Homo sapiens: one gene and its partners. The protein of the gene in region 4 purifies or fractionates together with the protein of the main gene of each other region. This does not show direct contact. Each region holds a gene or a part of one and is shown on either strand. Other genes may lie near its edges.

Region 1 (3,500 bases), on a different chromosome or scaffold from region 4:
ATCCTGCCACTGCACTCCAGCCTGGGTAACAGAGCAAGACTCCGTCTCAAAAAAAAAAAAAAAAAAATGTTGTTCAGTTTTGTGCTTTTCACCCCATTTCTTTTGCCTCTCTATGGTAAAAGGGGTTTTGTTTATCTGTTCTGTTTTAAGTGTTGTTGATCTCCCAGGCTCAAGTGATCCTCCCACCTCAGCCTCTCACGTAGTTGGGACTAAAGGCACGCACCACCACACCTGGCTAATTTTTATAAACTTATTTTCTTTTATTTTTTCGTGACGGAGTCTCGCTTTGTTGTCCAAGCTGGAGTACAGTTGCACAATCTCGGCTCACTGCAACCTCCGCCTCCCAGGTTCAAGCAATTCTCCTGCCTCAGCCTCCTGAGTAGCTGGGATTACAGGCATGCGCCACCATGCCAAGCTAATTTTTTATTTTTTAGTAGAGATGGAGTTTCACCATGTTGGTCAGGCTGGTCTTGAACTCCTGACCTCATGATCCGCCTGCCTTGGCCTCCCAAAGTGCTGGGATTACAGGCGTGAGCCACCGTGCCCGGCCTAATTTTTATAAATTTTTAGTAGAGATGAGGTCTTGCTATGTTACCCAGGCTGGTCTCAAATTCCTGAGCTCAAGTGATCCTCCTGTTTGGCCTCCCAAAGTGCTGGGGTTACAGGCATGAGCCACTGCACCTGGCTATTTTCGTCTTCTGTTCTTAGTTCAGCTTCTAGTTTGGGGAATGAGGTAGGTTATTTCCCTTGGTAATACTCTCTGCAGCCTTACTCTGATTGCTATTGGAGGTTCTGGAGAAGTTAGGTAACTCTCCTTACCTGCCTTACCATCCCCAAGAATATACTATACCCAGGGCAGAGAGTGTCGTCTTCTCTTAAATCTCTCTGAAGAAATATATCCATCTTATATTGGTATCCTGGCTGATTTCTGTATTGGAGAGTCTGTGGCACAGCTTGATGGTGAACTTACCATTGAAATAGATGCATAGGGAAATGTAAAGCATATATGATGTAGGTTTATGGACACATTGTGTCTAAATCTCATATAGGAGATAAAGGGAGGATGGGTGGTAACTTTTACTGGTGAGTTTCACTGAAAATCAGCTAAGTTGTTCTCCTACTTCTGTTTCCTTTTGTGTTCTCAGAACCTCAACCAGAACCCTCGGACTTTGCTGCCTAAATTCTATGGACTGTACTGTGTGCAGGCAGGTGGCAAGAACATTCGGATTGTGGTGATGAACAATCTTTTACCAAGATCGGTAAAAATGCATATCAAATATGACCTCAAAGGCTCAACCTACAAACGGCGGGCTTCCCAGAAAGAGCGAGAGAAGCCTCTTCCCACATTTAAAGACCTAGACTTCTTACAAGACATCCCTGATGGTCTTTTTTTGGATGCTGACATGTACAACGCTCTCTGTAAGACCCTGCAGCGTGACTGTTTGGTGAGTTTGTTACTTAGACATCAAAAATCTCAGTTACTAAAACAGCTTGATTGTTCTTAGGCATTAAGTTTGTGGGAGATGGAACTCTGTTCCTTAGCACTGTATGTCCTGGGCTGTATTTAAAATAAGTCTTAATTAGTTCATTGCCATTCCTTTACATTTTTACTTTCTCCCCGTTTATCCTCCCACAATGGGATTTATTTCCTTCTCTAGCTAGCCTGGGCCTCACAGTCAAATGTTCTGCTTATTTTCATACCAACATCATCCTTCCTCAGATTTTGGTCCTGGCTGCCAAATCCAAATTTATATTTTGGAAGCTGAGTGCTGCTGAAGAATATTACACAACCGTGTATACTGGCATCTACAGAATTATGATATCCAACCCCACTTGGGCTTTCAATATCGATCTTCAGTCCATTTGCTGTTGCTCTCAATAGGGATTTCAGATGTTTGGCATTCTAATCAAACCATTTTCTGACTCTCATCTCCCTAGCTTTGTTTCTCAACAAGCTACCTTAACTTTTTATCCTATTTCATCCTCTCATGCTGCCCCTGTCACCAATGGATAAATGTATCTACATTTTACTTTATTTTTTATTTTTTGAGATGGAGTTTCACTCTTGTCACCCAGGCTGGAGTGCAATGGCACGATCTCGGCTCACTGCAATTTCCACCTCCCAGATTCAAGCGATTCTCCTGCCTCAGCCTCCCAAGTAGCTGGGATTACAGGCGCCCATCACCACGCCTGGGTCGTTTTTGTATTTTTAGTAGTGACAGGGTTTCACCACGTTGGTCCCGCTGGTTTCAAACTCCTGACCTCAAATGATCTGCCTGCCTTGGCCTCCCAAAGTGCTAGGATTACAGGTGTGAGCCACCGCACCCGGCCTAGATATCACTCTTGACCTCTGTACTCTTCTGTCATGTGAACACTTCCCACTGTTGCACATATTAAACTGTATTGTGTTTATTTTACATTTGTATCCCTTTCTAAATGTATAATGTCCTTGAAGACAGAAACTCTCTCTTTAATATCTTTATATCTCTGTAAGGAGGCACAGTGCCTACATGGTGGAGATTCAGTAAATGTTTAACTGAATTGAAGCTAGTCATACAAGGTCCTACCACAGATCTGTTCTGTCACAAAGTGTACTTTACCAGAACCTCATTGTGGAATCTTCACAGCACAAATATGTATTCCTTGTTCTTTTGAGAAGGTAGTGTTCTCTTCATGGAGACATACATGGAAAGAACAAAGATGGTCTTGTGGGCTAGGCAGTGGGACTTGGAAAAATTATATTAACTCAAATGAGAGAAAGCTAAGGGTATGTAAATAAAGACTAACCAGGCCGGGCGTGGTGGCTCACGCCTGTAATCCCAGCACTTTGGGAGGCTGAGGCAGGCAGATCACCAGGTCAGGCGTTCGAGACCAGCCTGGCCAACATGGTGAAACCCCAACTCTACTAAAAATACAAAAATTAGCTGGGTGTGGTGGCACGTGCCTGTAATCCCAGCTACTTGGGAGGCTGAGGCAGGAAAATCGCTTGAACCAGGGAGTTGGAGGTTGCAGTGAGCCAAGATCGCGCCACTGTACTCCAGCCTGGCGACAAAGCAAGACTCCGTCTCAAAAAAAAAAAAAAAAAAATTTAGCCTTACAGGTTCACTGTAAGGCTAAATTAAATAATTACATCATGAAAGCTGTCAAGCCAGGCGTGGTGGCTCATACCAATAGTCCCAGCACTTTGGAAGACTGAGATAGGCAGATCCCTTGAGCCCAGAAATTAGAGACCAGCTGGGCAGCATGGTGAAACCGTCTCTATGAAAAATAAAAAATTAGGCAGGTGTAGTGGTGTGTGCCTGTAGTCCCAGCTACTTGGGAGGCTGAAGTAGGTGGATATTTTGAGCCTGGGAGGTTGCAGCTACAGTGAGCCGAGATCACACCACTGCACTCTAGCCTGGGTTACAGATTGATACCCTTTCTCAAAAAAACAAAAAAATTGTGAGATCCTGAAAAATATTTTTATTTCTTCCAAGGCTCAGATCATGTTTTTTTCCTTC
Region 2 (3,500 bases), on a different chromosome or scaffold from region 4:
TGTCATTTGCAGCTCCCCAGAATCTTCTGAGCACCCCTTCCCCCCTTCACATTTGGATAGTCTGCAAATTGTGATTCCCACTTTCCCAAGGTGGAATCATAGTTATGATGCAGACATTAGCCTCTGTATTGCCTGAAGATGGTCTGCCAACAAGGTATAACAGGAAGTTCCAAGCATCCCTAAAGTGTTTTGAGAGGAATGTGGAGAACTTGAGTTGGTCTCAAGGCCTGTGATGGGGGATCTAGTGTAGAGCTGAGGATCTCTAGGCTGATGGGAAGTTAAAAGATTGTAGGTACTGTTTGCCTGTCTTCCAGTATTACTTAAACCTTTTATCTTTGTTGGGGTTGTGTTTAGCTACCTCAGTAGCCTCTTTTCAAAGATCCCCTGGCTCTTGGAAAATTTCCTCAAAATGGTGTTTCTGGGACCACAATTTAAAAAAATTGTTTATTTATTTATTTTAGAGATGAGGGCTTGCCATATTGCCTAGGCTGTTCTCCAACTCCTAGGCTCAGGTAATCTTCCCATCTTGGCCTTCCAAAGTACTGGGAATTACAGATATGAGCCACCATGCCCAGCCCCGTAATTTTTAAGTAAGCCATTTTTCTCATATAAGTTCTTTTGCTTATCTAAAAAAAAAAAAAAAGAAGCATTGAGCAGAATATTAGTGCCCTTTTAAATCAGTATGCCTAGTTGAAATACTATTTATTTGTGAAGTCAGTCTTTTATGGCCCCCCTCACCTATTAACTCAGGAAAATAATTCCCACCTGCCACTGTTGTTTTGAAGATTAGAAATAATGTAAATTAAAAGTACTTAGCATAATGACTGTCAGGCTCTCAGTAATTACTGTTATTATACCTGTAATCCCAGGCTGGCAGGAGGATTGCTTGAAGCCAGGAGTTCAAAGCTGCAGTGAGCTATGATCATGCCACTGTACTCTAGCCTGGGCAACAGGGTGAAACCCTGTCTCAAAAAAAAAGCACAGTAAAAAATATATATTTTATTACCACTACCATTACCTCTGTTACTGTCACCAGTGAGACTGTTACTACAATGCTGGGTGATATGGCTTGGCTCTGTCCCAACCCAAATCTCATCTCAAATTGAATCCCCACATGAAGGGAAGGAGGTGATTGGATCCTGGGGGTGGTTTCCCCCATGCTGTTCTCCTGATAGTGAGTTCTCACAACATCTGGTGGTTTTATAAGTGACAGTTTCTCCTTCACACACTCACACTCTTCTGCCACCATGTGAAGAAGGTCCTTGCTTTCCCTTTGCCTTCCACCATGATTGTAAGTTTCCTGAGGCCACCTTAGCCATGCAGAACTGTGAGTCAATTAAACCTCTTTCCTTTATAAATCACCCAGTCTTGGGTATTTCTTTATAGCAGTTGAAAACAGACTAATACACTGGGTCTATTCCCCACTGTAGGAGAGAAAGCAGTAACGCTGAGTGTCTAGTGTTCCTTGTTTTTGCCTGTTGAGCCCAAGCTTCCATGGTCGCTTAGAAGAGCAACTCTGAGTCTTGTACAACTTCCCACCACAATTCCCTGTTTATTTTATTCCTCAAACCAGAATGTTTCTTCCCTGTTACTGCTACAAAATAATTACCCCTCTGGAACTTGGCACTTATTCATATATGAGTGTACTTTCTAAGGCAGGGCTATAGACTTAATGAGCAGTAATTGCATTTTGTTTAATCTCCCCAAAGCCTTAAGCTCTGTGGGCCCTGAGTGAGTCGGGTGGGGACCCGGGATGTGTGTGCTGCTGCCTGCCACTGCTGGCTCTCTGCTTTCTGCCGGAAAGCTTGGTAAAGCAAGAAGGGATGTGGCAGTGGCTGCATCTTTGGAGATCTGATCTCTCATACATGATAGCAAAGAACAGACACCTCAGTGGGAAAGTATGTGTGATCTATTTTGTTGTTGAAAGTTCATCAAAGCTCAACAAACATAGGCAAAACAATATGGCCAACATGTGTCTGCTGCTTTGAGGCATTTGCTTTTCCGATAGTTAACTTTCCAAGTATAGCTGAATAGCATAATAGTCTCAGTCGCCACAGTAGACCCTTGAATTTTGTGGACTTAGTTTGCCATTTCAGTTATTTCCCAGGATCCTGACCAACTTTGGCCTGTAAGGCTGTATGGCTGGGACATCAGAGCAAGTGGTTGGGCCTGGGGAGCCACTTGGCACCCATGCTGCCTTCTTATGAAATGCCATGATGGTATTTGTGAATTTTGGAGATTTGCAAAGATCTCAGGTATATCCCTTTAGAATATCATAGATCTACCTTTTTTAAATTTAATTTTATAAATATATGTGTATACATTTTTATGTATTTATTTATTTGAGACAGAGACTTGCTCTGTCGCCCAGGTTGCAGTGCAGTGCAGCGATCTTTGCTCTCTATAACCTCTGCCCCCTGGGCTGAAGCAGTCTTCCCACCTTAGCCTCCCAAGTACACTGGGACTACATGGCAGGCACTCGCCACCATGGCCGGCTACTTTTTGCATTTTTAGTTGAGATGGGGTTTTGCCATGTTGCCTAAGGTGGTCTCGAACTCCTGAGCTCAAACAATCTGCCCGCCTCAGTCTCCCAAAGGGTTAGGATTACAGCCATGAGCTACCACACCCAGCCTATAGTTCCATAAGGCTTATAGGTAAAAAGAAACAAAAACAACAACAAAACAGCAGTCCCCTGTCCCATCCTTTTCCCCATCAATTACCCACTCCTCAGAGGCAACCACTTTCAATTATTTCAGCTGTTTCTTCCACTATTGACTTCCATATTTCTTTTTTCTTTTTTTTTTTTTGACAGGGTCTCACTCTGTCTCCCAGATTAGAGTGCAGTGACGTGATCTCTGCTCACTGCAAGTTCTGACTCCGGGCTCAAGTGATCCCCCTCAGCCTCCCAAGTAGCTGGGACTGCAGGCACATACCACCATGCCTGGCTAATTGTTTTTGTATTTTTAGTAAGAGATGGGGTTTTGCCCCATGTTGCCCAGGCTGGTCTTGAACTCCTGGGGGCTCAAGGGACCCACCTACCTCGGTCTCCCAAAGCGCTGGGATTACAGGCGTGAACCACCAAGTTGGTTAACTTCTATACTTCTAAATAACATGCCAAATTACTATTTTTTGAGATAACCTATTTCAGACTGTATTTCTAGATTAATAAGGAAAGTGAAGATTTAACTTTATTATACCTCATCTCCTCTACCCTCTTCCCCCATGCAAAGTTGCTTTCTCTCATCCTCCCAATATCTCACATTCGGTTTAGTGTACATATTTTATGACTGTGTAAATATTGTCTACGAATGAACTACATATTGTGTCCTGTGAGTAAACAACCTTTTTTTTTTTTCCTGGAGTTAATCATTGATCCATTTAAAAACTTCTTGTTTTTTTTAATGACCTATCTGCACACTTGGATAGGACTGGTAAATTACAAGCACTCCCAGTCACATCAGGTTATCTATCCATTCCTTTTTTTCCCACCCCCCTTGGAG
Region 3 (3,500 bases), on a different chromosome or scaffold from region 4:
AGTCCTCCTGACAGAAAAGGGATGCATCCCACCTCCCTTTTAGGGAAGGGGTCCCCATCCCTAAGTTAAATGGCTTGACCAGGGATTGCCAGCCCTGTGGACAAGCATGGGCTTCTTCCATCTCCTCTGCGCTGGGGAGGGCCTGGCCTTCTGCCCCTTCCCTAGCCTCCTTCTCTGCTGAACTCTCTAGACCCTGGACCAGAGGCAATAGCCAGAGCTGCTTTTGGGGTAAGCAGGCACAGTGCTATGTACGGACATGTCCGCAATCTCACTCAATCCTCCCTGAGGCCCTGTGAGGGTGGTACTGTCACCCCCACTTTAAAGATGAGGAAAGAGGCTTAGAGAAGTGAGGAGGCTTGTCCCAGTCACACAGCTATTCCCTGTGCCTCAAAGTATTTTCACAAGATCTCATCACTGTTACTTGTGAAGACAGGGATGAATGCAGCAGCGAGGATGAATGGTGTGCCATGAGGTGGAAGTCCAGTGCCAGAATAGGAAGGGAGGAGCTGGAGAACCAAAGGAAGGGGCTGAACCATCCCTCTCTCCCAGTACGGCCTCCCAGAAGGGAGGACAAGCCTGTAGATGGATCCTCATGACCCCTCACCCTAGGCCCCTGCAAAATATGAAGTCCGAAGAGATACCTTTCCCTGCTCAGGTTGACACGGGCTTTGCTTTCTGGTCTAGAAGCAGGTGGGAGCAGGTGCAGCCTGACTCTTCACTCCCAGCCACGCAGGTGAAGACACAATAGCCTTTCTGCAGCTCACCACTAGGCCTGGAGCTTGGGGCTTTAAAAGGTCCCCATACATCCTCTGAGCCACCAAAAACTGTTTGCCAAAGAAGGCAGGGGTAGAAATAGCTGCATTCATAGCCTGTGCTCTGTCATCAGGCACGCACAGCTGGGTTCACGGGATCCTGGGGTAGTAACACTGACTCCAGGTCTCACCGAGGCCTGAGCTTGGCCACACCTCTCCCCATGTGTTAGCTCGGTGGTTCCAATCCAACAACGAGACAAATGTCTTAGGTACTTCATAACAGGATTCAAATGGAACGAATTCTTTTTTCCTCCCTTATCACTTTGCACACATGAAATCTATTTTTAATTAGCTTTCAATACATCATCTAAAAAAAAAATCCTACAGCTTGCTCCCACCCCCAAATTGTTCTTAGAGAAAGAAAGATTTGTCTTGTAAGTTTCTTAAGAAAATCTATATGTGCTCAATGCATTTAAATAACACTCATTAAAGTGAATGGCACACAAGCTGGCTTCTCTAGTCACAGATGAGAGACAATCGCTTGACCTACTGCAAATCAAAAAGCATTTCCACGCCACCTTTATTTTTCAACTGGTTAAGTTTTAAATTAAAGTCCCAACGCCCTTTTTGGAAAGGCAGACTAATAGGGCCCCAACTGAAATTTGAGCTCAGTCGATCAGAAGATAATTACAAGAAACAAAATGTGAAATTTTAAATCTGGGCACTAATGAAGTCTAAAAATACCAGTGGCCCATCCCTCTGGCTGGCAAGACCTGTTCTTCATGGAGGGGAATCTCCCCATAATTACTCAACCCCGGGAGAGGCCAGGTTGTCACGTCAAACAATAGCAGGGAATATCGGGGACTTTAACGAGCTAGATCTCAAGGCATTGCATGGTGGATCTTATTATAATGCTGGGCAAGGTTTCAAACAGAGAACAGGAGAAAAGGAAAGTTCTTTTTTTTTTCTAAAGTGGAGTTCTGACTTGTGTTGACGCCATCACGCAGAGCCTCCTGTTCCTGCCTGGAGCCAGCTGTCTGTCATTTAGGAGTGTGAAATCAATTGGGCTTCAGAGATGTAAAATCCCTAGGGGCAAAATTAAAAGTGACCCAGATCCAAGCCCACCTGGTCCTGTCAGGAACACGACTCTCACATGGCAAGTTTCAAAGATTTAGTTTCAAAATTCGGGTTTCTTATTTTAAAAAATATGCAGTTGTTTGACATTAGATCTGACAGACAAATTATAGCTTCAGCAATAAAGGCTTTTAAGATTAGAAATGAAAAGAGAAATTACTTATATATTAAAAAAAGAAAAAACCCACCCAGGCTTGAGTTTGGAGGCATTTGTAGGCGCGTGCGTCACTCTTTCTTCCCTGCAAATATAAGGGGCTCCATCAGCTGATGAGGCCGTAAATAGAGAAGCGAGTTACATGGAATTTCGAGGAAAGAGCCAGTGTGCTGGCAACCTCTGGAAATCAGGGTGATGGACCGGTCAGTTGTTGTCACTGGCTAGAGCTGGTGGGTCCCGCTGGCTCACCAGAAGGCAGGGCTGAGGACACTTTCTAGGCCCACCCCATCCCTGGCCCTCACACCTGGCCCTCGGTCTGCCCAGTGGGGCCTGGTAGAGGGAATCTTAGCAGGGCCCCTATTTCTTGTCCCCTCCCTTCCATTGGCTCAGGACCACCACAGAGGATGGTTCACACCCTCAGGTCCTTGCACAGAGGTTACAGGAACAGCTCTGCAATGGTCATTGACCCAGTGGGCACAGAAGTCCTGCAGGGTCCTGTCCCCGCCACCTGTGTCTTTCTGATCTCATGGGCTCAGGGCTGACAATGTTTAGCTGCCTGCACCCAGCAGCTTTGGTGGGGCAGATCCCAGCTTGGTGCTGAGCCCCAGACTAGGGACTCCAGTCCTTTCTCAGCTAGTTACCTTTTTGCACAAAACAGCTCCTTTTCCTAGATGCGTGCCTGGAACGTGGCAAGCCAGCAAGATCTTGCATTAGCCCAGAGGGGCTATGTGGGGACAGAATATGCCACCCGGTGCCTTGGGCTTTGGCATAGCCTTGGAAGTAGGATGCCCGCTGCCCAGTTGTCAGAGTTGGTAACTCATGAACTTGAACTGGGAGTAAGTTTCTTTCTTTCTTTTTTTTTTTTTAAAGGGAGACAGAGCTTAACCAAAACAATGCAAAGAAAAAATCAATTTAGTCATTTTTTTAAAAAAGATCTTAAAGCAAGAGTTTACCAGAATTTAGATGTAATTTTCTACAATTTTGTCATTTAAAACTAGTGCTGATTTCCAAAACAAAGGCAGTTAGGGCTCAGTCAGATTGGGAATTAAACCCAACAGAGATCCAGACATGAGCTTTATTGTTGGGATGCTTGACAAGGCATGAAAATTGCTTGAAATGACAAAGGAAGAGACTTGGGAGAGAAGACAGGAGAGTGGCTAGTGGGGTTCCTTGCTCTGCCGAAAGGCAGAGCACCCCGAAATGCCATCTCAAGGGGTTTTATGTGGGAAGGCTGGGAAGTTGTGCCCAGAGATGCATACTTTCTGGGACCGTCTAGTGTCCTCTTTCAAAAGAGATGTAGACACCCCGTTGGGCCAGACTGTTTGCCATGGACCCTTATGCCCCCACTGCCTGTACCTGGCAGTGGCCCAGCAGCCTTCCCCACTGCATCCAGCAGGAGCAGGGACTTGGCTTGTCTGGGGCACTAAGGGCTAGGCAAACCTATAGCAGAGGAATCCAGC
Region 4 (3,500 bases):
CATTTTCACAGTCACAGTGCTGTGGTGAGAAAAGAGGCCTTGACTCCCGGGCCTGCCATGACCCTCTGGGTGAGTTTGGCAAGTTCCCCAGCTGGGTCTGTTTGCCCACCTACATAGTGGAGGCTTTGCCTAGACCGGTGGTTCTCAGTGTGGGGTCCACGGACCACCACCACCACCAGCATGTGGCAACTGGTTAGAAATGCAAATCCTTTGTCCCTCTCCCCTATCCCAGACCTACTGATCAGACTCTCTGGGAGTAGGGCCCAGCACTGTTTTATTGAGTCCTGATTATGGTTCGAATGCATCCTTAAGTTTGAGACCCACTGGCCTAAATGGTCTCTGAAGTCCCTTCCTCCTCAAAAATCCAATCATCTAGGTGAAATCTGGGTTACAGAGACCACAGCATGCTGGTAGGGGGTGGGATATCACAGCAGAGTACTATGTAGCCTAGGGGTGGCTGGTGGGTTTGAAAAAAGGCAGGAGCAGTGGGATGTGGAGGGGAAGAGGGTGACCCCACTTCCCTTCTCCTCACTCCCAGGGGCTCTCCAGCCTTCCTGTGAGCACAGGTGGGAGGACTGGATCTGTCCTCTCTGATCCTCCTCTCACAGTGCCTGCCAGTATTCATGGGAATGTCCTTTTCTCTCCTGCTCTGCCCCTGGAGAACCATTTTGAAAATGAGAGCTGGTGAGACCTCTAGTGGCCAGGAGACACCAGGAGCCTAGGACCTGCACCTGCTGTCCTAGGATTACGTTAAACAGGGTTTAAATCTGGCCATCTTAGGGAGGACACCTGGACTCCACATCTGTTCTAACCTCAAAGCAGAGCCTGAAATTATAGGCAGATGCTCCACCCAAGCCACACCTGCAGGGAGGAAGTAGGAGACTAGACACAGAGCTTCCTGGCCCCTATGGCCCCACTGGGGAAGGCTGCGAATTATCCCAAGAGGAATTCTTGCAGCCCAGCTGCCTATACCTCAGCCACCTTAAGCTGGTTTACCCAATGCTCAGTGTTTATGAAAACAACCCCCTGATATCAGTTTTCCTGTCAAGACCACCAGGAGGTGTGTGGAATCTAGCTCACACAGACCCAGGTTCTTTCCATGAGCCCTGGACAATGAGAATTGATGTCTGGCACCAGGTTCAGCTCTGGGCAGTGAGGTTAAGTAACTTGCCTGAAGTCACCAGCAAGTTGGTGGTGGGTCTGCAGCTGGCGCAGAGGCTCCCAGACCCCCAATAGGTGCAGGCGCCCCCACCCTACACCATACCTTACCTGTGAATAATACCACTTAAACCCTGCAAAGTTTTGCCCTAGATTAGGCTGCATTCTTTTCGCACCTGGCTCTTTTGTAAACCCTGAAATTGTCTACAGACAAAGAGGAGAGCCCAAGGCTTAGGATAAGAAACCACCATGCAGGAGGTTTGAACAAGGTGTGCCCAAGCTTCTATAGCCTCCCAGATTAGTGCCAAACACAGACAGATCTCAATAGCCCGGGGGCTGGGATGGGACCAGGGACTTTGGGCCAAAGCATATAGATGAACTGGAGGGAAAGCATAAGGTTGCCTGGAGAGAGTGGGTATGAGATTAAAGTGCAGTCCAGTATCAGCAGAAGTCGCTGCACTATCCGAGGACTAAGGTCAGAAATGCTGACTTCTGGCGAAGTATCTTCCCAGTATGTGAGATAAACCCCTAATAGAGTGGGAGTTTCATGACTCTGAGCTCGGGTATAAAAGGAGTTTGGGGGAGTGGGGCTTTCAGGACACTGCTTTTTCCGCATCCCTTTAATCCAGGTGAGTAACCATACCTGTCTAAGGTGGGGCAGCAGTTGAGGGTAGATCTAGCATGAGACCTATTTCTGGGGTTTGACTCCATGGCAGTAGGGAGCCTCGGCTGGTTCTGGAGAAAGGGGGAGCAAAAGGTTAGGAATGGCTCCTGGTGTTCCCTGCGGGACTGACCCCCAGTCTCTGCATTGCAGGCAGGACAAGCTGAAAATCCACATGCGGAAGCACACAGGGGAGCGGCCCTACCTGTGCATCCACTGCAACGCCAAGTTCGTGCACAACTACGACCTCAAGAACCACATGCGCATCCACACGGGCGTGCGGCCCTACCAGTGCGAGTTCTGCTACAAGAGCTTCACGCGCTCTGACCACCTGCACCGCCACATCAAGCGCCAGAGCTGCCGCATGGCACGGCCCCGACGCGGCCGCAAGCCTGCTGCGTGGAGGGCCGCCAGCCTGCTCTTCGGGCCCGGCGGCCCGGCCCCCGACAAGGCGGCCTTCGTGATGCCCCCTGCGCTGGGCGAGGTGGGCGGCCACCTGGGCGGCGCAGCTGTGTGCCTCCCGGGCCCCAGCCCCGCCAAGCACTTCCTGGCAGCGCCCAAGGGCGCCCTGAGCCTGCAAGAGCTGGAGCGGCAGTTCGAGGAGACACAGATGAAGCTGTTCGGGCGCGCGCAGCTGGAGGCTGAGAGGAACGCGGGGGGCCTCCTGGCCTTCGCGCTGGCCGAGAACGTGGCGGCGGCGCGGCCCTACTTCCCGCTGCCCGACCCTTGGGCCGCCGGCCTGGCCGGCCTCCCTGGGCTCGCCGGCCTCAACCACGTGGCCTCCATGTCCGAAGCCAACAACTAGGCTGGTCCCTGTCGGCTCCAGCCCACCAGCCCTCCAGTCCTTCTCCCTCCAGGCCCACTCTACCCTACCCCATGGATCTGAACTTTTCATTTTAAAAACACAAAGGGAAAATGGGAAAATAATAATAATACTATCAGTGATGGCATTTTCCCGGGCTCCTAAAGCAGCTGCCTCCTTTTGCTGGTCTGAGACGGGCATCTTTTCCCAAAAGGCCAGGAGCCCGGGCCTCCCTCCCTGTCTCTCTGGCTCTCATATAGAAACTTGCACCGGCCCATGCCACAAAGAACTGGGTGCCCAGGGGCACTTAGGAGCTGGGTGAGTCATGAGGGGTCAGGGGGTGGTTGGCCTGGTGCCCAGCCAGCCACAGCAGGAGGAGGTAGGGGCTGGGCATGCACCTTGGTTAAGCCCCACCCCCTATGGCAAAGTCTCTGCCAACACTCCTCTGAGGGCTCATTTTCCAGTCTCCAGTGGCCCCGGGGTCTTTTTGAGAACTACCCACCTGCCACATAGAAAGAAATGCTCTGTTGGCAGGGAGGCCTCCTGGAACCAGTCAGGAACCAGGCTCTGGAAGGCCCGGGCCATTTCTTCCCTGACCTGTCCTGTGACCTTGACAGGTCAGCCCTCTGTAGCTCAGTGTCACCTGGCTATGGAAGGGGCTGGTAACTGAGGTTTCCGCCCTCCACCTCTAAACACATACACACCTATCCCCCCAGAGAATCACAGAGATGGTAGAAGCTTTGTACTCCCCAAGTCCATGGGGAAACAGTTTATCTTTCTGGACTTAGTTTTATCACATCCAGCTCTATATTAGCATATTAGCATAGGTGAGAAATATGGCCAGACTAGACAGAGATCAGGTCATCAGGGGAGCTTCCG

The links.
Region 1: the proteins of ZBTB7C (region 4) and PIP5K1A purify together in Homo sapiens (affinity purification with mass spectrometry; one large-scale study listed by BioGRID and IntAct). This does not show direct contact.
Region 2: the proteins of ZBTB7C (region 4) and ZBTB5 purify together in Homo sapiens (affinity purification with mass spectrometry; one large-scale study listed by BioGRID and IntAct). This does not show direct contact.
Region 3: the proteins of ZBTB7C (region 4) and KLHL29 purify together in Homo sapiens (affinity purification with mass spectrometry; one large-scale study listed by BioGRID and IntAct). This does not show direct contact.

What each region holds. Positions count from the first base shown.
Region 1 is NC_000001.11:151,233,052-151,236,551, forward strand, and holds part of PIP5K1A (phosphatidylinositol 4-phosphate 5-kinase type-1 alpha), read left to right. Parts: intron 1-1,145; coding exon 1,146-1,445; intron 1,446-3,500. UniProt on the Homo sapiens protein: Catalyzes the phosphorylation of phosphatidylinositol 4-phosphate (PtdIns(4)P/PI4P) to form phosphatidylinositol 4,5-bisphosphate (PtdIns(4,5)P2/PIP2), a lipid second messenger that regulates several cellular processes such as signal transduction, vesicle trafficking, actin cytoskeleton dynamics, cell adhesion, and cell motility.
Region 2 is NC_000009.12:37,444,951-37,448,450, reverse strand, and holds part of ZBTB5 (zinc finger and BTB domain-containing protein 5), read left to right. Parts: intron 1-3,500. UniProt on the Homo sapiens protein: May be involved in transcriptional regulation.
Region 3 is NC_000002.12:23,643,679-23,647,178, reverse strand, and holds part of KLHL29 (kelch-like protein 29), read right to left. Parts: intron 2,126-3,500; exon of another isoform or gene 2,097-2,125; coding exon of another isoform or gene 2,075-2,096; intron 1-2,074.
Region 4 is NC_000018.10:48,028,384-48,031,883, reverse strand, and holds part of ZBTB7C (zinc finger and BTB domain-containing protein 7C), read left to right. Parts: intron 1-1,972; coding exon 1,973-2,624; 3' UTR 2,625-3,500. UniProt on the Homo sapiens protein: May be a tumor suppressor gene.